Linked DNA regions of Homo sapiens: regions 1, 2, 3, 4 and 6 are each reported to be linked to region 5. Evidence: microRNA targets listed by miRTarBase, many of them from high-throughput screens and not tested one by one. Region 5 holds a microRNA gene; each other region holds the end of a gene's coding sequence.

Region 1 (5,075 bases), not on the chromosome of region 5:
CCGAGGTGTGCTGATTACTTGAGGTCAGGAGATCGAGACCAGCCTGGCCAACATGGTGAAACGCTGTCTCTACTAAATACACAAAAAGTAGCCGGGCTTGGTAAGTGTCTGTAATCTCTGCTATTCAGGAGACTGAGGTAGGAGAATTGCTTGAACCCGGGAGGTGGAGGTCGCAGTGAGCCGAGATGGCGCCACTACACTCCAGTCTTGGTGACAGACAGACTCAAAAATAATATAAAATGGAAGTTAAAATACAAAAATTAGCCGGGTGTGGTGGCAGACACACCAGCTACTTGGGAGGCTGAGGCACCAGAATTGCTTGAACCCAGCAGACAGAGGTTGCAGTGAGCCAAGATCAAGAGGCTGCACTCATAGGCTGAAAGATAGAGTGACTCTGTCTCAAAAAAAAAAAAAAAAAAAAAATGCATTTCTGATGTGATTGATGCAGACAATGAATCCTGAGTAACGTGATACAGACTGATGGACAAGGGAACTACAGCCGGGGGTGGGAGGGCATGGGCGACAGCTCTGAGCCTAGACCTGAAGGAGGAGAAAGTGACAGGGTACGTAGGGTAAAACCAGGGACAACGACCTGAGACAGGAAGGGTTTTGATGTTTGGGAAAAGAGAAAAGCAAATATGACTGGGGCGGAGAGAGTCATGAGATGAGGGCAAGCTCCCAGGAGGAGGCTGGACAGTGGAAGGGGCCCTGGACACAGGGCTGTGGAGCCACAGTGAGGGGTTGGGCTTTTGTCCTGGGGAACACGGGAAGCTGGTGGAGGGTTCCCTGTCAGGGACTGACATGACCTGCTTTAGATTTTGTTGTGATGTCCTCATACAGAGAAAGGCCCCGAAGATGGTCTCTGTGTCTGAGTCTACCTCTGTTTCTTCCATTCTTCTGCTTTTGTTTTTCATTTTTAGGGCACTGCATCCCATTGAAAATTCTAATCACAACTGGGCACTCCTCTCCTCAAAAAAATTTAAAAAAAAAGCCACACCCACACACGCACTCCATTTTGTCAATCATTTCAGGGGTCAAAGTCACTAGGGTTGAGCTTTTCTGGTGTAGCCCCTCATCGCCAAGTTCCAAGGAGGCTCACTGGGGCTCAGATTGGAAGACATTTTCACCAAGTTGCCCTGAGAAGGTCTGAGATGAGTGAGGTGTGCCTGAATTCTTACATGGGGGCCTGCAGGGACTAATGGGAAGGGTTGATCTTATCACCCCCATCCTGGAAAATTAGAGAAGGCTCTTTCACAAACCTGGGCTAAAGAAATTTCTTTTGCCGGGCACGGTGGCTCAAGCCTGTAATCCCAGCACTTTGGGAGGCTGAGGCGGGTGGATCACCTGAGGTCAGGAGTTTGAGGCCAGCCTGACCAACACGGAGAAACCCCGTCTCTATAAAAATACAAAATTAGCTAGGAGTGGTAGTGCATGCCTCTAATCCCAGGTACTTGGGAGGCTAAGGAAGGAGAATCACTTGAACCCGGGAGACGGAGGTTGCAGTGAGCCGAGATCGTGCCACTGCACTCAAGCCTGGGGGACAAGAGCGAAACTCCGTCTCCAAAAAAAAAAAAGAAAAGAAAAAAAAGAAACAAACTTCTTTTGCAAGGTTCTGAGGCCATTGACTCCTGACAGTTTGTTCTTCCTTACAAGAAAATCACAGTAACATTTATAAAATGCAGAGTTGTGAACACATAGCTATTGACCTTGGAAACAGGGAAAGAAGGTCAGGTGTACAACTAAGACATAAGCAAATTGTTTCAATCAAGAATACATGAGTGGTCAGGCACGGTGGCTCACGCCTGTAATCCCAGCACTTTGGGAGGTCGAGGTGGGCAGATCACCAGAAGTCAGTAGTTTGAGACCAGCCTGGCCAACACAGTGAGAGCCTGTCTCTACTGACAATGCAAAAACCTAGCCAGGAGTGGTGGAGGGCACCTGTAATCCCAACTACTTGGTAGGCTGAGGCAGGAGAATCACTTGAACCCAGGAGGCAGACGTTGTAGTGACACCAGATCGCACCATTGCAGTCCAGCCTGGGCAACAAGAGCAAAACTCCATCTCAAAAAAAAACCCCCAAAAAAACAAAAAGAAAAACAAAAAAAAAACCGAGGCTGGGAGCAGTGGCTCACACCTGTAATCTCATCACATTGGGAGGCCAAGTCGGGTGGATCACAAGGTCAGGATTTGAGACCAGCCTGACAAACGTGATGAAACCCCGTCTCTACTAAAAATACAAAAATTAGCCAGGCATGCTGGTGGGTGCCTGTAATTCCAGCTACTCAGGAGACTGAGGCAGGAGCATCACTTGATCCCAGGAGGCAGAGGTTGCAGTGAGCTGAGATTGCACCACTGCCCTCCATCCAAGGCGACAGAGCAAGATTCCATTTCAAAAAAGAAAAGAAAAGAATACACGGGTGCTTTTGGAGGAGCGTTCTATGCCAATCCAGCCCATGTTTCAACATTTTTCCAGAATGGACCAGAGGGCCTTGAGGGAAACACGCAATAAATAGCTCCCAGATCAAGATTTTAACAAAGGACATAAGGAAAGAAAACTGAAAAACAGACTAACTGGTTAAAGTACATTTTGATGTTTAGTTAAAAGGCCACTGACATATTTACCAAGTACACACTGAAACAATCAAACTTAAGTTTAGGTACCAAAGGTTTTCAATAAATAACAAAGACTAGAAAGCATGCAGACATTGATATGAACTGGATGCAACTAATTTAAAACAGCAACTATTTTGAAATTGTTTTTTAAAAAAATCTAACGAATTCTGGGGTCAACCGGAAAATAACTGGAAAATATACAAGTACAGAAACGAATGATGTGAGCTGATTATAGGATGCTGCAAAGGCATCTTTCAGAAGTCATTATGTATTAAGAAATACAACTTTTATAACTTAGATTTATCTCAAACTCAAACTGCAAAATAAATAAATAAATAAATAAAAAATAAAGAGAGAAATGAAGAGGAACCAGAAAGAAAAAGAAGGAAGTCCATTATACGAGAAGAAAAGCATTTTTGAGGTCTTTTTTTGTTATTTTTTGTTTGTTTGAGATGGAGACTCACTCTGCCACCCAGGCTGCAGTATAGTGGCACAATTTTGGTTCACTGCAACTTCTACCTCCTAGGTTTAAGCAATTCTCATGCCCCAGCCTCCCAAGTAGCTGGAACTAAAGGTGCACACCAACACCCCCGGCTAACTTTTGTATTTTTAGTAGAGATGGGGTTTCACCATGTTAGGGTGCTTTTGAAATTGTGACCTTAGGTGACCAGTTCACATGGGTCGACCAAAGTACTCTGATTGCAGGGATGAGCCACCACGTACCGAGGCTTTGATATCCTTTTTTTTTTTTTTTTTTTTGAGATAGACTCTCACTCTGTCGCCCAGGCTGGAGCCCAGTGGTGCGATCTCGACTCCCTGCAAGCTCCGCCTCACAGGTTCATGCCATTCTCCTGCCTCAGCATCTGGAGTAGCTGGGACTACAGGCGCCAGCCACCATGCCCAGCTAATTTTTTGTATTTTTAGTAGAGACAGGGATTCACCCTGTTAGCCAGGAAAGTCTCGATCTCCTGACCCCGTGATCTGCCTGCCTCGGCCTCCCAAAGTGCTGGGATTATAGGCATGAGCCTCCGTGCCTGGCCTCATATCCCTTTTAAAAATTACTATGATATATCCCTTTCAAAAAGTACTAACTGAAAAAAGTACTATCTCTTTAAAAAGTACTGGCTCAAAAAAATAATAGAAAATAAGAAACAAAAAACAGGCTGAGAAAAGTGGCTCACATCTGTTGGCCATGCTGGTTTCAAACTCCTGACCTCAAGTGACCTATGTGCCTTGGCCTCCCGACGTGCTGGGATTACAGGTCGGAGCCACCACACCTGGCCCCATCCTCTTAACATAAACACTTGAATGTCAATAAAGGCTTGAACTCAATGTTAAGTCAACACAAACTCAAGTCAATGCTGAATTGACTCCAATGTCAATTAATGCTTGATGGTTTGCTATACTCATTTCATTGGGAACGGTTATCTCAAAAATGAATTTTCTGATGTTCTGCATGGAGTGATCTTGGACTGAAGACCTTGCCACACTGATGACATTTGTAAGATTTCTGTCCAGTATAGATTCTCTGATGTCTAATGACGTGTGAACGTGAAGCAAAGGCTTTGCCACAATCATCACACTTGTGAGGTTTCTCTCCTGTATAAATTCTCCTATGTTTTGCATAGGATGAAGCTTGACTGAAGACCTTGGCACAGTCATGACATTTGTAAGGTTTCTCTCCAGTATGAGTTCACCGATGACCTGCAATATGTGAACGATCTCTGAAAAATTTGCCACATTTATTACACTTGTAAGATCTCTCTTCATTATGGATTCTCCAATGATTTGTAATCGTTGTAGCATTACTGAAGACTTTGTGACAATCATTACATTAGTCAAGTTTCCCTACACCATGAATTGCCTGATGGTGAATAAGTGTTGACTGCTTGCCAAAGGCTTTGCCACACTCATTACACTTGTAAGGTTTCTCTCCAGTGTGAAGTCCAGTATGTTGTTCCAGGTGTGAATCACTCCCAAGTCTTGTCAGAAACCTTACATTTGTAAGCTTTCTCTCCAGTATAAATTCTCCTATGTCTTTAAGGTGTGATTTCCAAATGGAAACTTTGTCACATGCTTCACATTTCTAAGGTTTCTCTCCAGTATGAATTCTATGATGACGTGAAAGGTGTGATTGTTGATTAAAAGCCTTCCCACATTCATTACACTTGTAAGGTTTCTCTGCAGTGTGAATTCTGGTATGTCTTGACAGGAGTGAATTACGCACGAAAGCCTTGTCACAAATTGTACATTTGTAAGATTTCTCTCCAGTATGAAGTCTACGATGGTATATAAGGGATGAGCAGTGACGGAAGGTATTGCCACACTCATTACACTTGTAAGGTTTCTCACCACTATGAAGTCTACGATGGCAATGAAGGGATGACCTGCGACTGAAGGTCTTGCTGCACTCATTACACTTGTAAGGTTTCTCACCACTATGAACTCTATGATGGCATACA
Region 2 (5,075 bases), not on the chromosome of region 5:
ACCCCTGGATCTCAAGGTAGAGGGGGCTGGGAGCTGGGGCTCTTGGATCTTAAGAGAGGACAGGACTAGGAACCTTCGGCCTCTGGGTCCTTAAAGGTGTGGGGTTGGTGCGTGGATTCCTCTGTCTGTCCCTGGAGAAAAGTGGGGATTGAGGGACCTTGGGAGAGAAGCAAGCTGGGGTCTTGAAAATCTGAATCCCAGACCCAAGAGTGCGCTAGGGAACTGGATCCTTGAGGCTAAGACTGGGATGGATTCTGATCTGTTTGTCCCTTCGTTCCGCAGAGCTACCCTCCGCTTCTACCGTTCACGGGGATTCCGGAACCCTCAGAGCCCCTGGCAGGGGCAGGGGGCCTGGGGTGGGGCGGCCGCGGCTACGAGGATTACCGGCGCTCCGGGCCACCCGCGCCCCTCGCCCTGTCCACCTGCGTCGTGCGCTTCGCCAAGACCGGCGCGTTGAGGGGCGCTGCCCTGGGTCCCCCAGCGGCACTACCTGCCCCTTTGACCGAGGCTGCGCCCCCAGCGCCCCCCGCTCGCCCACCCCCCGGCCCGGGCCCATCCTCTGCGCCTGCCAAGGCCTCCCCGGAAGCGGAGGAGGCAGCGCGCTGCGTGCATTGCCGCGCGCTCTTCCGTCGCAGAGCAGACGGGCGTGGCGGCCGCTGCGCAGAGGCCCCGGACCCGGGTCGCCTCCTGGTGCGCCGTCTAAGCTGCCTGTGGTGCGCCGAGAGCTTGCTCTACCACTGCCTGTCGGACGCCGAGGGCGACTTCTCGGACCCGTGCGCCTGCGAGCCGGGCCACCCGCGCCCCGCCGCGCGCTGGGCCGCGCTGGCCGCGCTCTCCCTGGCAGTGCCCTGCCTCTGCTGCTACGCGCCCCTGCGCGCGTGCCACTGGGTCGCAGCGCGATGCGGCTGCGCCGGCTGCGGGGGTCGCCACGAGGAGGCTGCGCGGTGAGGACGGCCTGGTGGGTCCCCTAGCCGGCCCGAGGACCCAAAATTGAGGGTCCAGGACCCCGGACTCCGTTCGGACCTAAAACCCAAACCTAGGCACATCCGGAACTTGGAGCTTGAGTTTGGATTGAGAGATCTCAGACCTGGAACCTGGAACCCAAACCTAGGACTGAGAGACCCCAGCCCCAGCTTCATTGGGGTGTCTGTCTAAGAAGTCCCAGGCGTCCTGAGTTCTGGCGTTCCCCCACCCCCACACCCCACGAGGAGGCTCCAGGCGTCCCCATACTTTGCATCTCAGAAAGGCCAGGGAGCACATAGATCCCGAAAAGGGCAGGTCCCTGTTGAAATGAACAACCTAGAACCCGGTCACGCCTGGCACCATGTCCCTCAGATTACAGCCCCACAATTAGTCAGGACTTGCCCATAACTGGCTCTGCCTTTATTCAACTCCCAGATCAGATCTTGAGACCATAGGACCTGGAGTCACCCACAAACAGTTCCTGAATATTCACCTAAGACCTGGTGCCCCCACATCTGAGACATTCTCATAGTCCCAGGACCCCTGAGACAGCAGGACCCCTGAGAAAGTTTCAAACAGAGTTTGAAACTCTGTTATGCTCTGGAATCTCCAGATGCTGCCCCTCAAATCTACCCACGACTTAGTGCCCACAGACCTGGCCTCCAGTCCGGGAACACTGAAGTCTAAGATGTCCAGGGAACTCCCAGACACCCTGGGACCCCAGACTCTTAAGATGCACTGAGTGCTCGGATATACTGAAACACGAGCTGTTCTCTTACCAAAATGACTTGGGAGACCCATCCCAGAGCCCCCAAGATCCAGATATCAGACACCAAGATGCTCTGGAAGCCAGGGATCAAAGACCTCCATAGGTCCACCCACCCCCAAGCCAGGGTTCTCAGGAGCTTTGGATATCATTTATAGGACTCAGAGGTGCCTGGGGTCCTCAGATGTGCGACTGAAGGCCACCAACACCTCAGGACCCGAGATACTGGTCTCGAGTTCTCAAATAGCCCTCTCTTGCAGTCCCTCCTGGACCTGGATTTTGAGACCCCAAATGTCCTGGAATCTTCAGCTTCTTTCTACCCACAGATTCCCAACCCCTTAAGGGCTGGGAGTCCAGCTCCCAGAAGAGGGGATGCTCATGGTGACCCAGACCTCTGATGCCCTTGGCCCTCAGCCCTTGAGTGACCCTAAGGTACTTTAGGAGCACTGGATCCAATACCCCAAAGGTGCCACTGACCCCCAAATGCAAGGCTCAAGACCCTACAACATTGGGATTGTTCCTGATCCAAGACCTTCATCCCTCCATACCAGAGGCGTTCAGATTCGAGGTGCCCCAAGACCCCAGCACCCTCAGACCCCAGATTTCTTTGGATTCAAACCTCTCTAGTCTGATGAACCCCAAGTTGCCTCTACACCTGATTCCCCCATCCCCACTTGTCGGACCTCAGAGACCTGCTGCCCCTTGAATCCTGTCATCCATAGGCCCCTAAAACCCCAAGGTTCCAGCCTCTGGAATTCTGGTCCCAAGGATCCCAGCCCAAGCCCCCAGCAATCCTCAGAATTACCCCTTTATCTTAGGGTGGGATCCCTACCATTTGGAACTCATTGTAGGACCACCCAGGGTGGGGCACAGTGGCTCATGCCTTGTAATCCCAGCACTTTGGGAGGCCAAGGGAGGAGGATCGCTTAAGGCCAGGAGTTTGAGACCAGCCTGGGCAATGTAGTGAGACCGTCTCTAAAAAAAAAAAAAAAGGACCAAGTAGGAGCTCCCTCACTGTCACGTCTAGGACCCAGCATTGTCACAGATGATTATGCAGGGTCTTCATTAAGTGAAGGCACACAGCCCAGGGTTTCGAGGAGCTGGAAGTCACACCAGTCTGCTGGCCACACTGTGCCCTCAGAAGAAGTGTGTGCAATGGAAACTTTCAGGCTAGTTATGGCTCTGCTGTCCCACAGCCCCCAGTCTTGCAGACCTTCCTTCAAGCACAACCTTAATTCCTAGTCCAGGTTCAAGTCCCACCTTTTATGTTCTCCCCCTCCATTAACCCCTTCTCTTCCTATTTATTTATTTATTTATTTATTTATTTTGAGACAGAGTCTCGCTGTATCACCCAGGCTGGAGTGCAGTGGCACAATCTCGGCTCACCACAACCTCCCCCTCCCGGGTTCAAGCCATTCGTCTGCCTCAGCCTCCCGAGTAGCTGGGATAACAGGCATGTGCCACCACACCCAGCTAATTTTTTGTATTTTGAGTAGAGACAGGGTTTCACCATGTTGGCCAGGATGGTCTCAAACTCCTGACCTCATGATCCACCTGCCTCAGCCTCCCAAAGTGCTGGGATTACAGGCATGAGCCACTGCACCTGGCTCTCTTCCACTTTAGAGTGAGAAGTTGCTTCAGGAAGTTTGAAAGCCTGTTTCATGGCCCACTGAGTCTCTTCTGTGCAAAGGGGGGTGCCACAGGCTTTTTTCCCCCAAGTGAAATGGGGCTTCCAGTGGATCGAAGATCTGGTGTCCTGTATGGGGGCCTCAAGGTCTTGGAGCAAGACAGTCTCAATGTTGTATGGGCTTGGGACCTGCATCTGGCCCCAAGCATCTGGAACTGTGCACTTAACCTTTCTTCATTACCCAGACTTGGATGGCCTTGTTGGGGTTCAAGGGATAGGTCCTCTGTCTCTTCCTTTAAATTATTAACTATTTATTACATCCGGAACCTGTGAGATTCAGCACTCCCAACCAGACCCTGGGATGGGTGAGAGAAAAGCGGGGGTGTCTCTCCCCTCCCCACTCTGCCCAGCTCTCATCACTGTCAGACCCACCAGAGCTGAGGGCGGAGGGATTGGGGGCTGGGGCAGCCTGGGTCCCCATGCCCCTCTCTGTGCCTCGGTCTCCCCCCTTCCATGGTGGGCGGGGGGGAAGCTCCATTCTTAACCTACCTCGTTTTGGGGAGGGGTGGGACGGGGGACCAGAGTGCTGTACGGTGCTGTGGGATCTGCAGATGAAGCGGTGGGGGCTAAGGAAAGGTCCCCTGGCCGCCACTTCCCAGCAGCGCCTCTCCCAGGTCCCCCAGTCCTGCTCCCTGCTGAGACCCACCTCTGATCCATGATTCCCCTTCATTGCCCCCAAATCAGGGGTACATGGAGGGCCGCCCTGGGAGCCAGGCAGACCTCAGACCCTGGAGCCCCCAGGCCCAATTTCCCAGCCGCTTGCCCCTCAGATCGGATGCTTGGCCCCCAGATTTGGGGGAGGCACCCCAACATATATCTTCCTGATCTTGTTTCTAAGCCAGTCTGTGACCTCAATATTGTTAGTGTCAGTGCAGGCTGAAGTGGTGGGGGAGGATGGGGGCCAAAGACCCAGCCTTGTCATCGGGGGAGGGGGCACGAGATCTGCTCCAAGAAATGTCTGTGACAAAGTCTCAGCCTGTGTTATTTATTTGCCTCTGTGCACCCCACCCACTCACCTTCCTGAACTGCTAAACCAGTCTCCTACTTAAATTCTCCCTTCTCCCATCAGACCCTCAAGCTGAGTTTTATAAGACACTCAACAAATGCATTTATTGAGCACCTAATTATGTGCCAAGCCCTGTTGAAAGCACTGGAGATAAAGCAGTGGGCAGAACAGACAAAAGTCCCTCCTGCAAAGAGCTTATGAGCTTTATAGTAGGGGAGACAATAAGTAAATGACTTAATATGTTAGAAATGATAGAAAGCAGAAAGAAAAAAAAAAGTGGGAATGGGGGATACATGCCATTTTAGCTAGAGTGGCCAGGTTAGACCCTCCTCAGGAGTTGGCATTTGTTGTTTTGAGACAGAGTCTGACTCGGTCACCCAAGCTGGAGTGCAGTGGCATGATCTCTGCTCACTGCAGCCTCTGCCTCCTGGGTTCAAGTGATTCTCCTGCCTCAGGCTCCTGAGTAGCTGGGACTGCAGGTGGGTGCCACAACGCCCGGCTAATTTTTGTATTTTTAGTGGAGTCAGGGTTTCACCATTTTGGCCAGGCTGGTCTCGAATTCCTGACCTCAAGTGATCCACCTGCCTTGGTCTCCCAAGTGATTCCAGGTGGAAATCTCCCAAGTGATTACAGGTGTGAGCCACTGTGCCTAG
Region 3 (5,075 bases), not on the chromosome of region 5:
TTTTTATTTTCAAAAAGACAGAGATGGAGTCTCACTACGATGCCCAGGCTGGTCTCGAACTCTTGGCGTCAAGTGATTCTCCCACCTCGGCCTCCCAAAATGCTAGGATTAGAGGCATGGGCCACCACGTCCAGCTTTTTGTACGATTTTGATGGAGGGAAAAATGGGAAAACCCCTCAGATTCATTTCATGGCAGGTTGGTGCCATCTTCAGAGATCACCAAGCCTGTATTTGTAAGAGGAGGAGATAGAGACCCAGAGAGGCAAAGAGACTCATACTGAGCGAGGGTCTGGGATCTAGGACCCTGACTCTGGGTTCTCTGTTCCTCTTCCTACACCCCAGGCAGTGTCAACATCTAATCCCCCACCCCCGCCCAATCATCCACTGCTTTCTCACCCCCTCTGAGCGCCTAGGGACTTTCTCCCTCTGCTCCACTGACAACAGCCTAAGAGGCTTTTCCGTTTATTTCATCGACTTGTTAATGATTTTCAGATCTTCAGTTACTCAGGCCAGCCCCTGAAGCAATGCTGGACTTGGAAACTTGTGACCCTGGCTGGCTCCAGTCCACTGCTGGTAAAGCCTTCCCTAGGTTAATAGCTCTGTGTAAGGGGCTCTGGGCTGTCTGGGCAAGAGGTCACTAGGGCAACACCTGACCTTTGTTTAGGACCCCAAGTCAAAGCCTCGACCTCCCCACCCCATCCTGTCCTTTCCACAGGCATACCATGCCCCTCCTCCAGCAAACCTATTATTCCTCCATTCAACAGCCTCTGTCCCTTCATCCAGAAAGGACAACCTGGTAAACAGGAAAGGGTTTATCTCAACCTTGCAGATACCCCGCAAAAACCGTGACGACCTAAGAGTAAGGAACTCAGCTTTGGGCTTCCAGTTCAAGATGGTGGCCTGAGCACATGTGTCTGTCTTATTTCCCTCTGGGGTTCACTGTAAAAAGAAGCTACAGTTCAGAAGCCACAGGTTGGTGGGAATGCCCTGGGAAGAGCTGTCCTGCTCAATAGGCCAGCACCTCCGGACTCACAGGAAAGACCCTGGACAGCTGTGGGAAGGGCTATGGCTTTTCTGTATGTCAATCAAATGAAAAATAAAACCTGGAGCTTTAGCTCATCTGACCCCTGTGGAAGGGATGAGCTGCTAAATTAGGCAGCTGAGATATTTTGGTACCAAATTACCATGTGTACTTTTTTTTGGTATTTATTATTTTCTATTCTTTCATAAGCTATAAGCTTTAACTACAACCACGAGAAGGTAAGAAGAGCAGATGCCAGGGGCATGCCAGAAAAATGGAAGACTCTACTAATAGCACACTTAAGGTAACAGACTTTTATTACATCTTCTTTTGGAACTTAGAAGACAATATTAGCCTCCTACACTTTTGAGAATTAAAATTTAGCCCACCATCATTTGGCCTTGGTAGTGACATCACTTGGGTACAGTGATGACAGACAGCCTAAGGGGCTGGACCTCAGAAGACTAAAGGTCTAGTCCTGGTCCTTCCACTAATGGGCTATGGTGACCCTGAGCACATTATTCCACTTCTAGGTGATTCAGTTTCCTCATGACTCATAACAGGAAATCATTGGTCTCAACCTTCCTCCAAGGACTAGTGTGTGGAGCTAGAACATGCACCAAGGAAGACTGGGGAACATCAGAGAGAGATAGGACTCAGTACCGTTGACTCAGGTAAAGAGGGAGACAGCAAGAACAGAGTAGAAAGGCAGCATAAAACTGGTGGAACCAAACACAGACTAAGTAAAAAAAAAAAAAAGGTAAGCTTCCCAACGACACCATGTCCCAGGAAAGAAGATCCAGTAAGAAGCAGAGGCCTTTAGCAAGGATGCCAAGACAATTCCGTGGAGAAAGGATATTTTTCTCAATAATCAGCAGTGGGACAAGTGGAGATCCACAAGCAAAAGAATGAAGCTGGACCCCTACATCACATCATATATAAAAATATACTCGAAATGGATCAAAGACCATTGTGAGAACTAAAAGTATAGTTCTTAGAAGAAAACACAGGCATTAATCTTCTTGACCTTGGATTAGGCAATGGTTTTCTAGATATGGCACCAAAAGCACAAGTGACAATAGAAAAAAAATACGTATCTTGGAAATCATCAAAGTTAAAAAGTTTTGTGTCTCAAAGGACACCAACAAGAAACTGAAAACAATCCACAGAAGGGGAGAACATTTTTACCAGTCATATACCTGATAAAAGACTGGCGTCTAGAATATACAAATAGCTCACCCAACTCAATAATAAAAAGAAGGCTCATCCCTGGTAGTCTAGTGGTTAGGAAAACAGAAAACTTAAAAAAAAAAAGACAACTCAATTAAAAATAGGCAAAGGACCTGGATAGACCTTTCTCCAAAGAAATACGCATGGCCCGTAAGCACAGGAAAAGACACTCAGCATCAGTTGCCATCAGGGGAATGCAAATCAAAACCACAAGATAGCATTTCATACTCATTAGGATGCTAAAAGCAAAAAGACAGATAATAGCAAGTGTTGATGAGGATGTAGACAAATTGAAACCTGGATACATTGCTGGTGGGAATGTAAAATGGTACAGCTGCTATAGAAAACAGTCTGGCAGTTTCTCAAAAAGTTAAAACACGGAGTTACTGTAAGACCTAGCAATTCCACTCCTATGTATATTGCTAAAAGAAATGAAAACATATGTCCACACAAAATCTTGTAGAAATATGTTCATAGCAGCATCATTCAGAGTAGCCAAAAAGTAAAAACACACAAATGTCCATCAACTGATGAATCAATAAACAAATGTGGTCTATCTATACAATGAAGTATTATTCAGCAATACAAAAGAATGAAGTACTGATACATCCTCAACTTGGACGGCCCTAGAAAACATTCAGTGGAAGAAGCCAGTCACAAAAGAGATATCACATGATTCCAGATATATGAAATGTCCAGAGTAGGTTAATCTTACATAGAAAGTAGATTCATGGCTGCCTTGGACTGCAGGAGTTAGGAAAGCAGGAGTGACAGACCAAGGGTACGGGGTTTTACTGGGGGTGATGAAAATGTACCAACGTTGACTGTAATTCTGTGAATTGATGGTGGTTCTGTGAATACAATTGGACACTAGCAATGGGTAAACTGAATGGCATGTGAATGACATCTCAATAAAGCTGTTAGTTAACCCACTCCCCGCTTCTCCTCTAAAGAAGGAAGAGGAATCAGGAGCCTGTCCTCACTCTGTTCTGTAGGAATGCCACGGCTATTACCCAACATAATGACTAACAGAGCCCCTTTTATTCCGAGATGTCCTGGTTTATATGATAAATTTATATCGCTACCCTATCACTATGTGCTACCATGCAGGTGACTTTGCCCCTCTGAGCCTTGGTTTCCTCATCTATAAAACAAGTTCTCCCCATTGTAGACCCTGTTTTATTCTGGTAGTCCTTCAGTCTAGCACTTCATTCCACAGAAGCTCCATTTAGAAGCTATGACATCCCATTCAGGTGGTCAGAGGGTTCCCCATGAACCTAAATTAACCAAGAGCTGAAGCCCTGGGCCAGTAGAGATCACTGGATCCCAGGAACCAGAGGCAAGACAAAGACGAATTTCTGAGTCTACCACAGTTACTGACACTCAAATTTCCCGATAGTTAGGCCATTAAGAAAGATGATGCACCCATTCTGATGCAGGCAAAATATCCTAAACATAGCCTCTACAAACAAAGATAAACATGTAAGTGAGGGGCACTCAGAGAAAACACATCGCTCCTGTGGCAAGTTTAGCAGCGGTTCAACAAGGTCTTCTCTAACTTTCTATAAGTCCATCCAAGAGGGCCTGGTATTGTGGTGGTCAAGGTCATCTGATGACACCTAGGAATGGAATACTCATTCCTAATCCTCCTTACCCGTGATTGCCAGGAAATAAAATAGTCTTTTTCTATTACCATCCCCCTAACCTCCCCACAAAGGGCCTCAGAACTAATGTCTCTGAGAAAGGCCGTGCACATACATTGTGGCATCTACCATGCCAATGCGCCAGTGCAGAGACAGGAGCACATCTTTGGGTTCCGCAGCAGCAGATCCTTAGAAACAACGTAGAGAAGAAAGAGGTAGAAGGCACAGAATAGCCCCACTCCCATCAATTCATCCAAGAACAGGAAAGGCGGATGCTCACCAGGGTCACTGAGAAGGGAAGCAAACCTGAAACAGGAGAATGAGGGCAAACTGCTCCCATCAAGTCGGCAGTGCTGGCCATGCAGCCAACTCCCAGAGGAGGAGGTAAAGGTACCAGCTTCCAGGGTGAAGCAGAGCTTTCTCTGGAGGCAGGAGAGTGGTCAGAAGGGACCAATACAGGCAGCACCAAGATACCCAATCAGCTTCCAACTAAGGGATGAGGGATTTCAGAGCAGACGTCTCCACTGTTTGCCCTTTTAGAACGTCAGGGTTGGACCAATAGAAAAGAACAAGGAACCATTCAAAATCTGGAGGCCAAGAGGAAGGGAGAAAGGAGCCACTGGCTTTCTGTACACCGTACTTGGTGTCCACAGGCTTCTGCTGGTTGGTGCTCTGTAGCTTTCACAGACTGGGCAGGGTCCCTCCTGGCCTCAGCTTGCCTGGTGAGGCCACAGCTTACAGTGGGGCAATGTCTACATCCACGGGGATCCACAGGGCTGGGAGCTGGAGACAGGTATGAGGTCCACTGCTGCTCAGAGTCCACATTTCAGGATGATGTGGTAGCCATCATTGCTCTCAGCTGCAAGAGAGAAACACTGGGTGTATTTCACAGGAAAAAAGGTGCAGTGCCACAGTATTGGGGAGTCCCAAAAGGCACGCTGTTAGGGTATCAGCAAAGACCACCAAAATAGGGCTGCATACAGCAAAGCGTGCTGGCAGAAGCAGGGATCTCACATGCCCTGACATCTGCCTCGTTTAGTGTCTTTTTAACAATAGGTCTTTCTACCATAGCCCCAGGCCCAAGGATGAAAACCTACGTTCCAAGGAGGATTTGGACAACTGTGGTTCTCAGGGATATTATGGCCCCCAAGGCCCCAAAGACACTTGGTGGTGGCTGGGCG
Region 4 (5,075 bases), not on the chromosome of region 5:
ATAATTGTTATTAAAGAGAAAACACGCCCACCTTCCTTTCTCCCCTGCTGGCCATTGTTCATTGAGTTTTACTGAGGGCAGCCTTTGTGGAAGTCAGGGAGGTTGCCAAAGGCCTGTAGATGCCTCCTGACAAGGTCTTGATTCCTGGTTTTCTAGCACCCATTTGCATTTTGGTCTTCAGCACAAAGCCTTGTTCCCTGTGGCCGGACTTCTGGGCAATAAGACTGGGGAGTGACTGTTGAGCAGTCTGCTGTCAGGAGAGATGGCTGAAAAGGTGATCATCTTGGTGCTAAACAAGTAAGAGGCAACTGCCCTGTTTTTGTTTGTTTTGAGGCACAATGAAACTTTAGCCAAACTCTGCAAGAGGGTCCCATCTCCTGCCATGGCCAGGTGTGAGAGACCAAACCGAGAAAACAGCATACTCTATCACTTAAGCCTTGGGTAGAATGGGAATTCTTTACCCTGGGTAAACGTTTTAACAAAAAAATGGAACTTAACTTCGGTTTGGACTGTGGTCGTGCTGAGGCAGGAGTGGGGTTGCCCTCTTGGGGCTGAATCTCCAGGCCTCACGAGGTCCCCTGTGGGGATGCTGCTATTTCTAAGATGCAAATTGCACATTTCCTAGATTTTGTATCTGTGGATTTGGATAAGGGAGGGGAACACGGACAAATTGCTTGTACAATTTGAAATGGGCCTCAATGGTACTTCAAACCTTTTGATTATTCCTAAATAAAAACATAAATATATTTCACATCTGCTGACTTATTTTGTGGGGGAGTCAGGAAAAAAGCCAAAAACATTTCACTTGTTCTTGCCCACTTCTGTGGATCTTAAACTCCAGTGGATGAGTGGGGCAGTTTCCCTCAGCTCACCAGAGAAGTTCCAACTCACTGTCTTCTGCATTGCTGAGATCACCACACTGGCTTCTACATGAGAAAACTATGATATTTTAGAAATTATGCTAAATAGACAAAGGCAAACAGTCAAACCTGGTATCATCTGGTGAGAGGACACTGGCAAGTTCTTTTCTGTTTCCTGTGAGAGTGCTGAAAAGCATAGCCTGTCATTTGCTGGGGCGGTGTCGGGGGTTAGGGAATATGCATAAGGACCCAGGGGCTTTCTGGAGGAAAAAGACTAAAGCCCCAGCTTCTAAGACCCAAAGCATTTGAATTTTGTTGGGGTGGCCCTGAAGGCCTGGGACAGAAGGAAAAAGGGTCCTTTGAAATGAAATCACCTACAGTGGAGCCAGGCAGTGATTCTGGACACCAGAATAGGAGTCCAGCTTATGTCATGGGGAAGCAGCTGTGTGTGTTGAATCCCAAAAACCAGGTCCTTGGAAACTAGACCAAACTGGCATGCAACTGGCAAAGCCAATCAGCTGAATGCTGTAGTGGGTAGACTCAGGCAGTGACTCACTTGGGATACTATGGGTGGAATTCGCAGGAGCGGCCAGCCAGGGGGGTTGCTGTGGGGTTCCTCCAGGCAGGGAACAGAATGCCTAGATTAACCCCTAAGCACAAGTCCCCTGGGAATTACTAAAGTACCCAGAGAAGACAGGAGTTGCAGTCTGAGACTGTGCTTGATCCATTTAATTAAAATGTGAAGAAGGCATGATCCTTTCATTCACCGAGTTAGTCTGGTGGGATAACCTGAACCTATTTGCTTTCTACCCACCCTCAACAGAACTCACATGGTGAGTGATGGGCTCAAGTTGAAAGACAAGTGAGTGTCTAGGTCCTTAGTGATGTTCAAGCTCTCAGGTGATGTTCAAGATGTGCTTGGTCAGGAGGCAGACCCCTGCCTTTTCTGCTCATGGCCACAGATACTCAACTGAGGTCAGAAACTGCTCCTGCCATCTTCCCGCAGGGCAGTCTTTAGTCCTGTGGCGGGGGCAGAATGCCCCTGACCTTGTAGGCTCTACTTTGTATGTGTACATGTCTGCTGAGCCAAAGCTGTTGAAAGTGAAAGGTCTGTCACTTTGAACCCAGTCTACTTGTCCCTGGTCTGTCAGCCAGAAGGTTCTACTGGTGATGGCAGGAGAACAAGGAGCCTGCAAGGGAGCCCATCTACCTTCTGGTACCACTGACTTCCCTCTCCCGGCCCTGCCTGCTCTTTTGGTTTGTGCTGCCAAAATCAGGGTTTTTCAACCCTTGTTACTCATTTAAATCACCTTGAGAGGTTTTGAACAATACCTATGCTAAGGCCCCGGGTACCAGTATTTTTCAGAAGCTCCCCAAGTGGTGCTAATGTGCTGTTAGGGTTGAGACTCCACAGGTCATAACCCTGAGCTGTCGCACTGTAGGGACACGGCCTGCATGCATGGGATGGGGCAAACAACTCCTGATGCCAAAGCATTCGGCCCCAAGTAAGGGTCTTCCCCACCAACAAACACTCTGCCTTCTGGGTCAATCAACATTTGTCAGGTCTGGAGGAATCTTGAAGTGAAAATGATCTTTAAATTTGCTTGAGAGTTGGCACGTTTTCCACTAGGAAGAACAATCAAAACATTTGCAGTGAGGCAAAGGCAATGTCTTACAGAGCCCAAGAGAGGTGAGCCTCAGGTCTACAAAGCTGCCTTAAGAAAGGCAGAGCTGTCTGTTCCCCAGGTTGTGTTCCAGAAAGACACTTGTTCAGCAAATAGAGATACGTATTGATGAAAACTAAAAGGGTCAACACTAACAAACACGCCAAGGACGTCCTAACCAACGTGGATGGGCCCTAACAGAAGGGCCTACACAGTCCTCTTCCTTCTCTGATAGGAAACCTTTCTCTCCAGGCCATAAAAACCTAGAGAGGAAACATGGATCATGAGGGCCCAGGTGAATTCCCACCCACCACCTTCTTGTGTATGGGAAAAAGCCACCCTCCTCTCTATGAACTGGGACTGTGAAGCTGTAAAAGAAAGTCACACAAGAACCTGAGCACTATCGCTGTTTGATACTGGCTATCATCAGTTCATGTCATCCACGGAACCGGATCTATCTTAAATTTTTTGTGTGGCGTCATTTTTGTTCCATCCCAGCACAGCCAACTATGGAAACAGAGCTTCAGGAAGAGAAGGGCCTTTCAACTGTGTTGAAAGGGCCCAGAGATTTCAGCTGCCAAGTCCTAGAGGCAATCAGAATGGCACCTGGCAGTGTTAACGAACTGAATGCAACATTTTTGAAAGGAGAGGTTTCTGTGGAACTGGAAAGGGGCTCTGGTTGTTTCCAGCTCACCACCAAAACTGGCTGGCCACAAAGAACCCAGGCAGGATGTACTCTGCTCAGACACACCCTCAGAGGGTGGGCAGGAGAGAGTGGACCCACAACTCCTGTTAGCCCAGAGGAGGGGTTACAGCTCTTGCTGCTTAACCTGAGAAATTTCCAGAAATTTCCTACCTGCTTCTACTGCAGAATAATCATCTGGCGACTGTTTCTAGTGAGCATGTCCCATGCAACAGGCTTTCCTGAGCCCCCGAAAGAGCATACAAGTCAAAGGAAAAAGGACATGAGGATGATTTATTTGGCAGTCAGATCTTAAGAGGGCAGCAGAACTAGCAAATGGCCAACCCTGAGCCCAAATGTGGGCAGTAGGTTTGTGTGTGCTGAATGCTGGCTATGCTATGAGGCACCTTTGCGCCCACGGGCCTGGACCCCGGCCTCTGTCCTCAGAGGTGAGGGCTGCCTTTCTAACCTTCCCATCTCCATCCCTGGATCTTTTTACCAGTTAGAAGCTGCAGCAAGGATGGCAGCTTCATTCAGCACCTAACTGCCTGTACCCCACCCACCCAGGAGTCAGGCAACTCCTCAATCCCTTTTTCATTCCTCAGGGAAAGCATACTGAGTCTTCTTTGACTTAAAAACAAAAAACCTCACCAAAATAGGCTCTGCTATTTCTTCTCTTCCCACCCTGGCCCGCCCCCCATTCCTGACAGTGCCTTACATCACAAACTAAGTCCTCTTAACACAGCAGGCAGCCCACCTGCCACTCTCCTCTCCAAGGTTTCCCTACAGGGGTGAGGAGCAGGAGGAGTAAATAACTTAGTTACAATACCATTGAGACGAAAAATAATACTGCTATTTTTAACATGATCCCCTGTATCTTTCAGGCTGGGTCATGTTCCCAGCCATGGGCAATGTGCCCTTGTGCTGTGTCCTCCTCCTCAGGCAGGGCAGAACCCTTCTCCATGCAGGCCCTACATTCCTCTGCCCTGGCTCCAGGGCCAAACTGCAGGGGCATCTAGCTTCTCACCCTGCCCAGCTGTGGTTTTAAAGCTACAGGACAATGTAAACTTTGTTTCCCTGGCCCAGCAAGGCTCCTCCTCCTCCTCCACTCTTAGGAATGTCAGTAGCTCCTTGGAGTCTCCTGTGCCACTGGCTGAGGCAGCCTCTCTCTCCAAGGGGCTTCGGCCATGGTCCTGGCCCCACAAGATGGAAGGATCCATCTCCAGAAGTCAGGGCCAGATGTGTGTGCTTAATGCGAAACACAGTACAGTTTTTGCCTTCATCCAGAGCTGGGGCATGGAGGCCCAAAACAGTAATAACATCTCATTAATGGCTTGGTTTCTGTCTAGCATTCACTGCTGGAATCCAGGCTTCAGGCTGCGAGACCCGGAAGGCCGCCACAGGGGGCTGCTTCCAAAGAACCCAGTTCGCGGCATTCTACAAGGCGCACAGCACCTGCTGCTCTCCAACGAGGCTGGGGTACAACTAGAGGCGGTTGTCTCCATTGACCCGAGTCCTTCTTGGGGCCCTGGACAGAAGGGAAGAGTGTCCTTACTGGCAGGCAGGGCCTTGCAGCCCAATGCCAGACAATATTACAACTTTTCTACCCAGGAGAAAGAAACACTGAAGAAGGAGGACCTAGCCACTGCCTTCCTGGCTCTAGCACCCCTCCATCTTCCTCACCTTCGTTCTCGACTGTCAAAATGGTCTGCGAGATGCTCCTGGGAGATGCGGAAGTCCTCAAACGGCTGCTGGTAGCGGGATTCAAAGGAGCCTTCCCGGGCTCGGCCATGAAACAGCTGGCCTGAGGCATCTGAGCCCCGCTCCCGCAGGGACGTACCACTGAAGGGACTGAGGTCACCATTCTCC
Region 5 (5,075 bases):
TTGGGGGATGTCACTCCTTATGTCACAGGTTTTCTACACCCTGTCAAATTCCTTGTATTGTTTTTAGAAGATGTCACTCCTCATATCACAGAGGGTGTACACTCTGTGATAATATCGTCATATTCTAGGGAAATGTTACTTTTAATGTCACAGAGGGTGTACACCTTGTCAAATTTTTCGTTATAGTTTTGTGGGATGTTACTGCTAATGTCACACGGGGTGTACACACGGTGATATTACGTGTCATATTCTCTAGAAATATTACTCGTATGTCACAGGTCCTATACACCCTTTAATATTCTTCATAATATTGTAGGAATAGGTGACTACTAATGTCACAGGGCGAGTCGGACCTGTCATAAAATTCGTAATATCCTTGCGGGAGTTCACTAGTAATTTCACAATGTGTGTACACCCTTTGATATTCTTCGTATTATCCTAAGATGTTACTACTCATGTCCCAATGCAGGTACATTCTCTGATATTCTTCATTATATCCTAGGGGGATGTTACTTCTAATGTCACACGGGGTGTACTCCCTGTGTTCTATTTCGTAATGTCCTAGGACAGTTTTACTTTTAATGACTCAGGGGGTGTACACATTGTGATATGATTCGTGGTATTCTAGAAGGATGTTACTCCTAATGTCACAGGGGTGTAGACCCTGTGAAAGTATTCATAATTTTCCAGGGGTCTATACTCCTAATGTCACAGAAGATAACACCCAGTGACATTATTCATAATATTCTAGCGAGATGATACTCCTAATGTCACAGGGGGTGTACACCCTGTGATATTATTCTAAGTATTCTCGGGGGATGTTACTCTTAATGTCACACGTGTGTTCCTTCTGTGATATTATTGAAAATATGCTAGCTGGATATTACTACTAATGTCACAATGCGTGTACACCTTGTGATATTATTAGTAATATTCTGGGGGGATGTTACCCCTAACGTTACAGGGGTGTACACCATGTGATATTGTTCCCAATATTGTAGGGGGATGTTACTCCTAATGTCACGGGAGCTGTACACCCTTCGATATTATTTGTAATCTTATAGAGAGATATTACTTAAAGTATCATAGTGGGTGTACACACATGGGGTACACCCACTGGGATATTATTTCTAATATCTTCGAGAGACATAACTCCTAATATCACAGTGGGCGTACCCCATGTGTTTACACCTGTGATATTCTTTGTAATATCCATGGTAAACATGACTGCTAGTATCCCACAGAGGGTACACCCTGTGATATTATTCACCATATCTGAGGGAGGTATAACTTTTAATATCACAGTGGGTGTACAAACTGTGATATTATTTGTCATATCGTAGAAGTATATTATTCCTATTGTCACAGGGGTTTCACATCCTGTGAAATTATTTGTAGTCATCCAGGGGGATGATTATCGTAAAGTCGCAGGGTGTGTACACCCTGTGATATTCTTCTTCATATTCTAGGGGGATGTGACTCCTCATGTTGCAAATGTGTACACGCTGTGATATTATTCACCATCTACTAGCTGGCTATTGTTACTAATGTCACAATGTGTGTACACCTTGTGATGTTATTCATAATATCCTAAGGGGATGTTCCTCCTGTTGTCACAGGGGCTGCGCTTTCTGTGCTATGATTTGTAGTATCCCAGGGGATGTTACTCCTACCATACAAATTGGGTACACTTTGTTATATTATTCGTAATATCCTAGAGTGATGTTACCCTTCATATCACGGGGGTGTTCCTCCTGTGATGTTATTCTTCACATTCTAGGAAGATGTGAACCCCTAATATCACAGAGCGTGTACAATCTGTGAAGTTATTCATAATAGTTTTGGGGGATGTTACTCCTAATGTCACACTTGGTGTATAAACCGTGATATGATTTGTCAAGCTTTTTTGGATATGTTAGTCCTAATCTCACAGGGGCTGTACACCCCGTGATATTATTCATAATATCTTAAAGAAATATTACCACTAATATCACAGGTGGTGTACACCCTGTGGTATTATTCCCGATGTTGTAGGGTGATGTTACTCCTAATGTTACAGATGGTATTCACATTCTGATAATACTCGTCATACCCTAAAGGGATGTTACTACTGATGTCACAATGCACGTACACAATCTGATATTATTTCTTATATCCTCGGGCAATGTTGCTTCTAATGTCACATGGGGTGTACACTTTTTGATTTTATTCGTCATATTTTAGAAAGATGTTACTCCTAATGTCACAGAGGGTGTACGCCCTGTGAAGTTATTCATAATAATTTTGGAGGCTGGGACTCCTAATGTCACCCGTGGTGTACAAACAGTGATATTATTCGTAATATTTTATGGAAATGTTACTCCAAATGTCGCAGGGGCCTTACACCTTGTAATATTATTCATCATAACCTAATGAAATGTTACCTCTAATGTCACAGGGGGTGTACACCGTATGATATGGTGCCCAATATTGTAGGGGGATGTTACTCCTAATATTACAGGGGGCGTTCACACTGTGATAATATTCGTAATATCCTAAATGGATGTTAATGCTAGTGACACGACGCGTGTACATCCTCTGTATTTGTTCGTTATATCCTCGGGGGAGGTTTCTCCTACTGTCACATGGGGTGTACTCTCTGTGATATTATTCAGAATATCCTAGGTGGATGTTACTCCTCGTGTCACAGGGGCTGTGCATTCATTTTGTGATGTTATTCACAATGTCCTAGAAGGATGTTACTCCTCAGGTCACAGGGGATGTACACCCTGTGATATTATTCATACTATCCTAGGGGATGTTACTCCAAATGTCACAGAAGGTGTACACTCTGTGATATTACTTGCAATGTGCCAGGGAAATGTACTCCTAATGTCACAGGGCATGTGCACCATGTGTGCACAGCCCCTGTGATGTTATTTGTAATATTCTTGAGGGATGTTAATCCTAATATTCCATATGCTGTTAACCATGTGTGAACACCTTTGTGGTATTATTCCTAACATACTAGAAAGATGTAACTCCTAACATCACGTGGGGTATAGGCCATGTGCGTACACCTTCTGTGATATTATTCATAACATCGTAGGGAGATGCTACTCCTAATTTTACAAGGTGCGTACATTATGTGTGTACACCCCCTCTGATGGTATTCGTAATATTCTAGGGGAATGTTGCTGCTAATGTCACAGGGAGAGTACACCATGTGTATGCAACCCTGGTAATATTATTTCTAATATCTTGGGGGGGTGTTGCTCCTAATGTCACCTGGAGTGTACAGCATGTGTGTACACCTTCTGTGATATTCATAAATCACAGAAAAAGATTACGCCTAATGTAACAGGATGTGTACACCGTGTGCATCAACCGCCTTTGATATTATTCGTAATATACTAGGGGGCTGTGACTTTGAATGTCACAAAGAGTGTACAAAATGTCACAGGGTGTGTATGCCTCATGATATGATTCCTGATATCCAGAAGGATGTTACTCCTAAGGTCACGGGGGTGCACACACTTCGATAATATTTGTAGTCTTATAGGGAGATTTTACTGTAAATCTCACAGTGGGTGTACACTATGTACACTATGTGTAGACTGTGATATTATTTGTAATATCTCAGATACTACAGAGTTATAGCTCTCCGTGTTATATTAGAATTATATCTAAGACAGTACAAATAATACCACAGTGGGTGTACCTCATGTGTGTACACCCTGTGATATTATTTGTAATATCCATGGTAAACATTACATCTAATATCACAGAGAGTGTTCTCCCTTTGATATTTCTCATACTCTCATAGGGAGATATTGCTTTTAATGTCGCAGTGGGTGTACACCATGCGTGTACATTCTGTGATACACCTTATATCCTAGGGAGATATCTCTCCGAATATCAGTGTGTGTACGCCTTGTGATATTCTTCATATCCTAGAAGGATGTTACTCCTAATAAGACAGAGGGCGTACACCCAGTGATGTTCTTTGTAATATCCTAGGGAGATGTTACTCCTAATGTCACACGGGGTGTACACCCATGATATTATTCCTAATATTCTAGGGGGATGTTACTTTTAAAGTCACAGGGGGCGTACACCCTGTGAGGTTGTTCGTAATATCCTAAGAAGATGTTGCTCTTAATGTCACATGGGGTGTACACCCTGTGATATTACTCGGAATATCTTATGGGGATGCTACTCCTAACGTCACAGGCTGTGTACACCCTGTGATGCTATTCGGAATAGCCACAGAGATGTTACTTTTGATGTCACAGACAGGGTCCACCCTTTGATTTTTTTATCATCTTAGGGAGATATGACTTCAAATATCACAGTGGGTGTACACCCACTGTGATGTTATTCGGAATACCCTAGGGAGATATAACTTTTAATATCACCGTGGGCGTACATACTATTTGTGTACACCTACTGTGATATTATTCCTAATATCCTAAAAATAAATAGGACTCCTAATATCACAGTTGGTGTACACACTGTGATATGAGTCGTAATATTCCAACAGGATGTTACTCCTCAGGTCACAGGTGGTTAATACCCTGGGACAGTATTCCTCATATTCCAGGGCGCTGATACTCCTAAAGTCACAGGGTGTGTACCCCCTGTGATATTATTCCTCCTATTCAAGGGGGATGTTACTCCTAATGTCACAGGGATGTACACCCTGTGATATTATTCATAGTATACCAGAGGGATATTAGTACGAATGTCACAATGCGTGTACATCTTGGCATATCATTCGTATTATCCTAATGTCACAGGGGGTGTGTTCCCTGTGACATTATTCCTAATATCCTAGACGGCTATTTCTCCTAACATTACAGGGTGTGTACACCTTGTCATATCATTCATAATATCCTAAAACTACGTTATTCCTCATGTCACAGAGGGTGTTCACCTTGTGATATTATTCGTAATTGTTTTGTGGGATGTTACTCCTAATGTCATACAGGGTGTACACAGAGTCACACAGTGCTATGACGTGTAATATTATATAGAAATGTTACTCGTAAATCACAGGGGCTGTACCTCCTGTGATATTATTCGTCATATTCTAG
Region 6 (5,075 bases), not on the chromosome of region 5:
TACCCTGGCTATTACCCTGATGATAATGGTATATATAATCAGAAATTTCCATTTAAAACACTTGCCATGGTTACATCATTCTTAACCAACATTTGCATCTCCTATCTAGCCAAGTATCTATTTGAAAGTGGAACCTTGCCACCTAAATTAGATGTATTTGATGCTGTTGTTGCAAGACACAGTGAAGAAAACATGGATAAGACAATTCTTGTCAAAAATGAAAATATTAAATTAGATGAACTTGCACTTGTGAAGCCACGACAGAGCATGACCCTCAGCTCAACTTTCACCAATAAAGAGGCCTTCCTTGATGTTGATTCCAGTCCAGAAGGGTCTGGGACTGAAGATAATTTACAGTGACCCCATCTAAATAAAATACTGCTTTTGCAAACAGAACACTGTAATAGGGTAGTTCTGGAGAGATGGTATGCAGCATACAAAAATATATTAAAAATATAAACAATGTTCAGGAGAGTAAAAATTCATATAAAGTGCAATTGCACAAATACAAGCCAAGCTAGAAGGAAGCACCTATGAAAGCAACAACTTTGTTTCTCATCCATAGTAGTATTGATTTTGATGCTAGATAGTTTTGCTAGGTATAAAAAATAAGTAAAGTTCCACTTAGAGAACAAAGGGCCAAATAGAGTTTTTATATTTGTTATGATAAAAGGAAGTAGATGTGAAAAAGCCTAAGAAAAAGGAAATTGGACAGTTTTGATACAAACTTTGTTTGCTAATGCACTGATGAGTCTAGTTTCATTATAGCACGAAGCTATGAGAATAACTTCAGTCACTCCCTTGAATGGTGCAATGAATTAACCAGCTGATTTTTCTTAGTGTGATGATTAACCCCTTCTTTCATGTTCTGAGCTATAACATTTGCTGAATATGCAATTTGTTATTCTTTTATTAATGGCATGTAATATTCTGAGCACGGGCAAAGAAAACACACAAAAGATTATGTATTGGCATTTATTTATGTGCAAGGTGATAGGAAAACTGAATCCATCTTTGTAGAAGAGCACTGGGCTAATTTGTATGTTTCCATAGCTACTATATGCATAAACAACAGTACCTGAAGGATTATTAAGCAACCTTAAAGCAATAAGTTCATTAAACAGAAGGTAATAGGAAGAACAGTACATTTTTGTCTTTATCTCAAGTATATAAAGTTTTGCCCCATGATAAAATAAGTAACATATAAATTAATACATAAGTTAATATTGGAAGTGAAATTAGGCCTTATGTAAGGAGAGGTAGCTACACAGCATCTGTTACGGTTAATGAGAGGCACACTGCTAAATTTACGTATATTTCATTGAATACTTTATGGGAAGCCTCCACAACACCTCCTGATAGTAGTAAAATTAGAAAAAAACAAACTCTACTAATTTTTAGATATTCATTAATAGGAAAGATTTAATGTTACAGCATCTACTCTTTGGCACTTTTTCACATAAGCCAGCCTTAGAGACTAGACAAATAACTACTGCAAAAAGTACATAGTGAATTTTAAAATGTAGAAGAAAGCAAAAAATAAAATAAGTCCTAAAGTGAAGAAGCCATCAATTTTAACATTTGATGTCTAGATAACATTCATGAGATTGGTCATTAAATACTATTTTGCTCCTTTTCTGGTGTTACACATACACACTCATACGTGTGTGTGTGTGTATGTGTGTGTGTGTATGTGTAATGATTTGTGTCCATTTCAAGTGTTTTCACACCAGTCACACATTATAGAAATTACTGGAGCCATGTCTACAAAAGCAAAGTGAAGTGATGAGCTGAAAAGTGATCAGGGAATCTGATCCCATAAAGAAAGTGAGTCTGAATTGTTGAAACTAAAGCACTTCTTTTCCAAAAATACTTCTGCAACTCATGAACAAAATGAAGTTAACTTAGTGTTTAGCATTAAAAATAAAAGTTGTACCTTGACCCTAGAATTCCTTTTATAAGATTTAATTGTAATTGTCTCAAAGCATCAAATAATACATCTTTATCATTAAACATGAATTTAATGTCTAGGATAATTTTTAAAAGAGGAAATTAAATAATTTTACATGTCTCATATTTTCAGTGCTTTCTCAAAATTTGATGGTGAATATTACATTGCATTCAAAATCTTCACTGAATATCATATGTATCTAAATGAAAAGAGAATTACTTATATTCATCTATTTTCTCAGAATCTATTCAGTACCCTATGGAGTACATGGAAGAAGTATATTTTTGGAACCAGTAAGTATGGGAGTCCACGATTCTCAGGTATTGATTGAAAAAAGAGAAAGGGGCAAGAAATTCATTAAAGAAAAACCACAGATACTGAAACATTTGACACATAAAAGTAATTAATTGCTGGAGACTACAATTCCTGGCAAACACCATTATTCCAGATGCACCATGCTACCCAGCATGCTACCTGAATGGCGGTTTTTATCCATCCTGTCACCCTGAGCATCTGTCTCAACCTGCTGAGGCACAGACTTCCACCATGTGCATCAGGAAACACCTCACTCATACTGTCATATAATGCAACAGGGAGGCATAGTCTCTCTACAGGTCTCTCTCTTTACGTTGTACCATTCTGTTGGGCAACAATTGTCCCAACAACCACACTTAAATCCAGTGGGGAAAAAAAGGTTAACAGTAAAAATTTCTTCCACGTAATTCAATTTCTCACAATAGACAGAAACAGGGGGAAAATGTTTGCCCTGTTCAAAGTACTAAAACTAGATAACTTAAATAATTTAAGCCAATAAATAATATTATATTGTATTTAACCCATTATTCCTCACCTACCCTCAAAGTAGGTATACAAAAGACTAGTTTGTTATTAATCCACAAATATGCTAAATGTTAGCAAGATGATTTTTAAGTACAAAAAAGTTTAAGATTGCAAGGAAGGAAACAATGGTCACAAGGTCTTTACTTATGCACATTTGTGCATAAATTTCCACCCAATTTCCAAGACAGTTGTATCACAAAGCTGTGAAATGTGCAAGAGTATACTTTGTACCCATCATGTGCTCTGTTTTGACATAATGAGTAATGCAGACATTTACATGTTCTTCCAGCTTCAATCAGTAGACCTGATTTTCAAAATCTGCCCTCAGATGAAAATAAAATAAACGAAACATTTAGACAATGGCTATATTAATCTGGGAAGGCAACACCTGTGGATAAAACATTAGAAGAAAACATATATTTTATTTTCATACTTTTGATATGATTGTAACATATTTCTTGAGTAATTTAAATGCTTTGTTTTCCCACACATATTCAAATCAGCAAGCTTGTAGCTGGACTGCAATATCAACAACAAGTTGTTTCAAACAGCATCAAAATACAACTTCATTGCTACACTTACAAGTAATGAATTTTATGTGACTATGAAACGAATATAAGCTTAAAATAAGTGAATCTAATAAAATGGCTATTCCTCTTTTTACTTGGAAATAATAAATTAACATTATATTTTAAACATAAATTATGATTTCTTTTTCTGTTTTAGCCTTCATGTAAATTTACACTGGTATGATGTGTAATTTATTGTACGTTTGCTACTTCATAGACAGATGCATATAATGGTTCTAGAACATATATTTTTGTCTGTCAAATTATTATATAAAATTATGCTTAAAATAAGTATATTTGCAACTGTGTAAATGCTTTAAGTGTAATGGCAATGTATTAAATTGTGCTGGTCAATTTAGGGTATCATTGTCTAAATTTGGCTTTTGGGGGCCCTCTCTTAAACTAAGTATATATGGTGCTTCAAGACAATTATGCAATGAAATCAAAATAAACCATCTCATTACTGGAGGATAGGCAAATGCCAAGTGGAAATGCTGCACCTCACGTAAGTCTTGGGGCAATATATATCATAGCTCAAAAACAAATGTAAATTGTTTTTCTTGGAAAAGACATTCTACCATTGTACACAGGTCTTTTGTAAATCAAAGAAATCAATAGAATAATATCCATTAAGAGTCTCATGCTTACTGACTGAGTCAGCCAGGTGATTCCAATTATATTCGTTCCAATCACATAAAGAAGATCTGCATTTTTCAAACCAAACAGCTGACCAACAGTTGTTGTATGAAGTCAATCTCTAAGTGACAAGTGGCTGTCATTGTGCTCCAACTATGTGCTCTGTATCTCTCATCTTACTCTCTCAAGATGTCTTTAGACATGTAGTTATATACATTCTCAGAAGAACTTTGGCCTTTCATACCTTAATTATAATAAGCATTAGTGCCTTTGGATGTATATAGGGCAGAAGGGCCTATAATGAGTGTAGGGACGAATGAAGGAAAGAATAAGTAGGTATGCCAGGGCAACATCACATCGAGTTGTCGTCTTGTGGACACACTTCTGGAGATTATACATTTTTGCTTTATCACAAATCTATAGTGTGGGGGGAATTATTAAGAGCCAGAAAAGAGACTGTATCAGAATATAATATTAGGGCCCGTGGACGTTATCTTCATTTTAACCATTGTATCTAGAGAGCTTAAATTTGATCATTAACATTCTCCTAGAACAGACATTCTTGAGAGAGATCCAGAAAGCTATGGGATAATGATAATTATGGTTTCTCCAATTTTTATACTGTCACCTCAAGAAAAGTTACAAAACAGTAAAAACAGTCATTGTATCTTATTTAAATTCTCTAAAGTCAGAGAATATGTGGTGATTCTGCCTTTATTTTTGGTTGGAAAACTATAGTTATCTATTTAAAAGAGATATTGCATTATGTATTTTGAAGCCAAACTGCTGTGTTGATTTATCAGTTTGTCATATAGAGGCAGTTAAAAGCATAAACCAGGTAAGACTAAAAGTCCAGTGATAGAATTTAGAGCAGTAGGTATTACTGAAAGAAGTAATTGAAAACAGCTTCTGATAGTGCAGTGCCACACGTGGAGCTGAAGAGAATACAGTAGAAGGATGGGGCCAGGAATCACGCTCTTTTGGGTTCTGAAAATGGACGGAGCTGGGAGAATTATTGAAACTCTCTGGATCTCTTTTATTTTTGTAAGTCTTCTTTTTTTTTTTTTTTTTATTATACT

What was found. The annotated mature microRNA hsa-miR-5692a reads CAAAUAAUACCACAGUGGGUGU and lies in region 5 at 3,677-3,698, shown strand. An mRNA with a match to its seed (bases 2 to 7 or 8) in the 3' UTR can be bound and repressed. Matches are read on the target gene's strand: a 7mer-m8 pairs with bases 2 to 8, a 7mer-A1 pairs with bases 2 to 7 and ends in A, and an 8mer does both.
Region 1: the mRNA of ZNF611 is a reported target of hsa-miR-5692a. Seed matches in the 3' UTR shown: 7mer-m8 at 3,746-3,752, 7mer-A1 at 2,950-2,956, 7mer-A1 at 2,946-2,952, 7mer-A1 at 2,942-2,948, 7mer-A1 at 2,938-2,944 and 7mer-A1 at 2,675-2,681.
Region 2: the mRNA of SPRED3 is a reported target of hsa-miR-5692a. Seed matches in the 3' UTR shown: 7mer-A1 at 3,031-3,037, 7mer-A1 at 3,035-3,041, 7mer-A1 at 3,039-3,045, 7mer-A1 at 3,043-3,049 and 7mer-A1 at 3,047-3,053.
Region 3: the mRNA of TFCP2L1 is a reported target of hsa-miR-5692a. The part of its 3' UTR that is shown has no 7-base or 8-base seed match.
Region 4: the mRNA of PLCG1 is a reported target of hsa-miR-5692a. Seed matches in the 3' UTR shown: 7mer-m8 at 4,048-4,054 and 7mer-A1 at 4,015-4,021.
Region 6: the mRNA of SLC5A7 is a reported target of hsa-miR-5692a. Seed matches in the 3' UTR shown: 7mer-A1 at 976-982.

Annotation. Positions count from the first base shown.
Region 1 is chr19:52,700,238-52,705,312 of GRCh38, forward strand. ZNF611 (zinc finger protein 611) reads right to left here. Exons shown (of 6, transcript NM_001161499.2): 6 at 2,576-5,075. The coding sequence ends at 4,700. Among named protein-coding and RNA genes, the nearest start is that of ZNF611, 32 kb to the right of the region's middle.
Region 2 is chr19:38,395,198-38,400,272 of GRCh38, forward strand. SPRED3 (sprouty related EVH1 domain containing 3) reads left to right here. Exons shown (of 6, transcript NM_001394336.1): 6 at 283-4,390. The coding sequence ends at 948. Among named protein-coding and RNA genes, the nearest start is that of FAM98C, 5.4 kb to the right of the region's middle. RefSeq lists a silencer at 4,962-5,075.
Region 3 is chr2:121,219,635-121,224,709 of GRCh38, forward strand. TFCP2L1 (transcription factor CP2 like 1) reads right to left here. Exons shown (of 15, transcript NM_014553.3): 15 at 1-4,753. The coding sequence ends at 4,707. Among named protein-coding and RNA genes, the nearest start is that of TFCP2L1, 63 kb to the right of the region's middle.
Region 4 is chr20:41,174,126-41,179,200 of GRCh38, reverse strand. PLCG1 (phospholipase C gamma 1) reads right to left here. Exons shown (of 32, transcript NM_002660.3): 31 at 4,890-5,075; 32 at 1,575-4,734. The coding sequence ends at 4,692. It overlaps ZHX3 (zinc fingers and homeoboxes 3), which reads left to right. Exons shown (of 4, transcript NM_001384317.1): 4 at 1-746. Among named protein-coding and RNA genes, the nearest start is that of MIR6871, 7.6 kb to the right of the region's middle.
Region 5 is chr7:97,959,989-97,965,063 of GRCh38, forward strand. MIR5692A1 (microRNA 5692a-1) reads left to right here and starts at 3,670; the gene lies at 3,670-3,738. The region is part of intron 1 of CZ1P-ASNS (CZ1P-ASNS readthrough); the gene reads right to left. It overlaps MIR5692C2 (microRNA 5692c-2), which reads right to left and starts at 4,493; the gene lies at 4,417-4,493.
Region 6 is chr2:108,010,502-108,015,576 of GRCh38, forward strand. SLC5A7 (solute carrier family 5 member 7) reads left to right here. Exons shown (of 9, transcript NM_021815.5): 9 at 1-3,493. The coding sequence ends at 360. Among named protein-coding and RNA genes, the nearest start is that of SLC5A7, 27 kb to the left of the region's middle.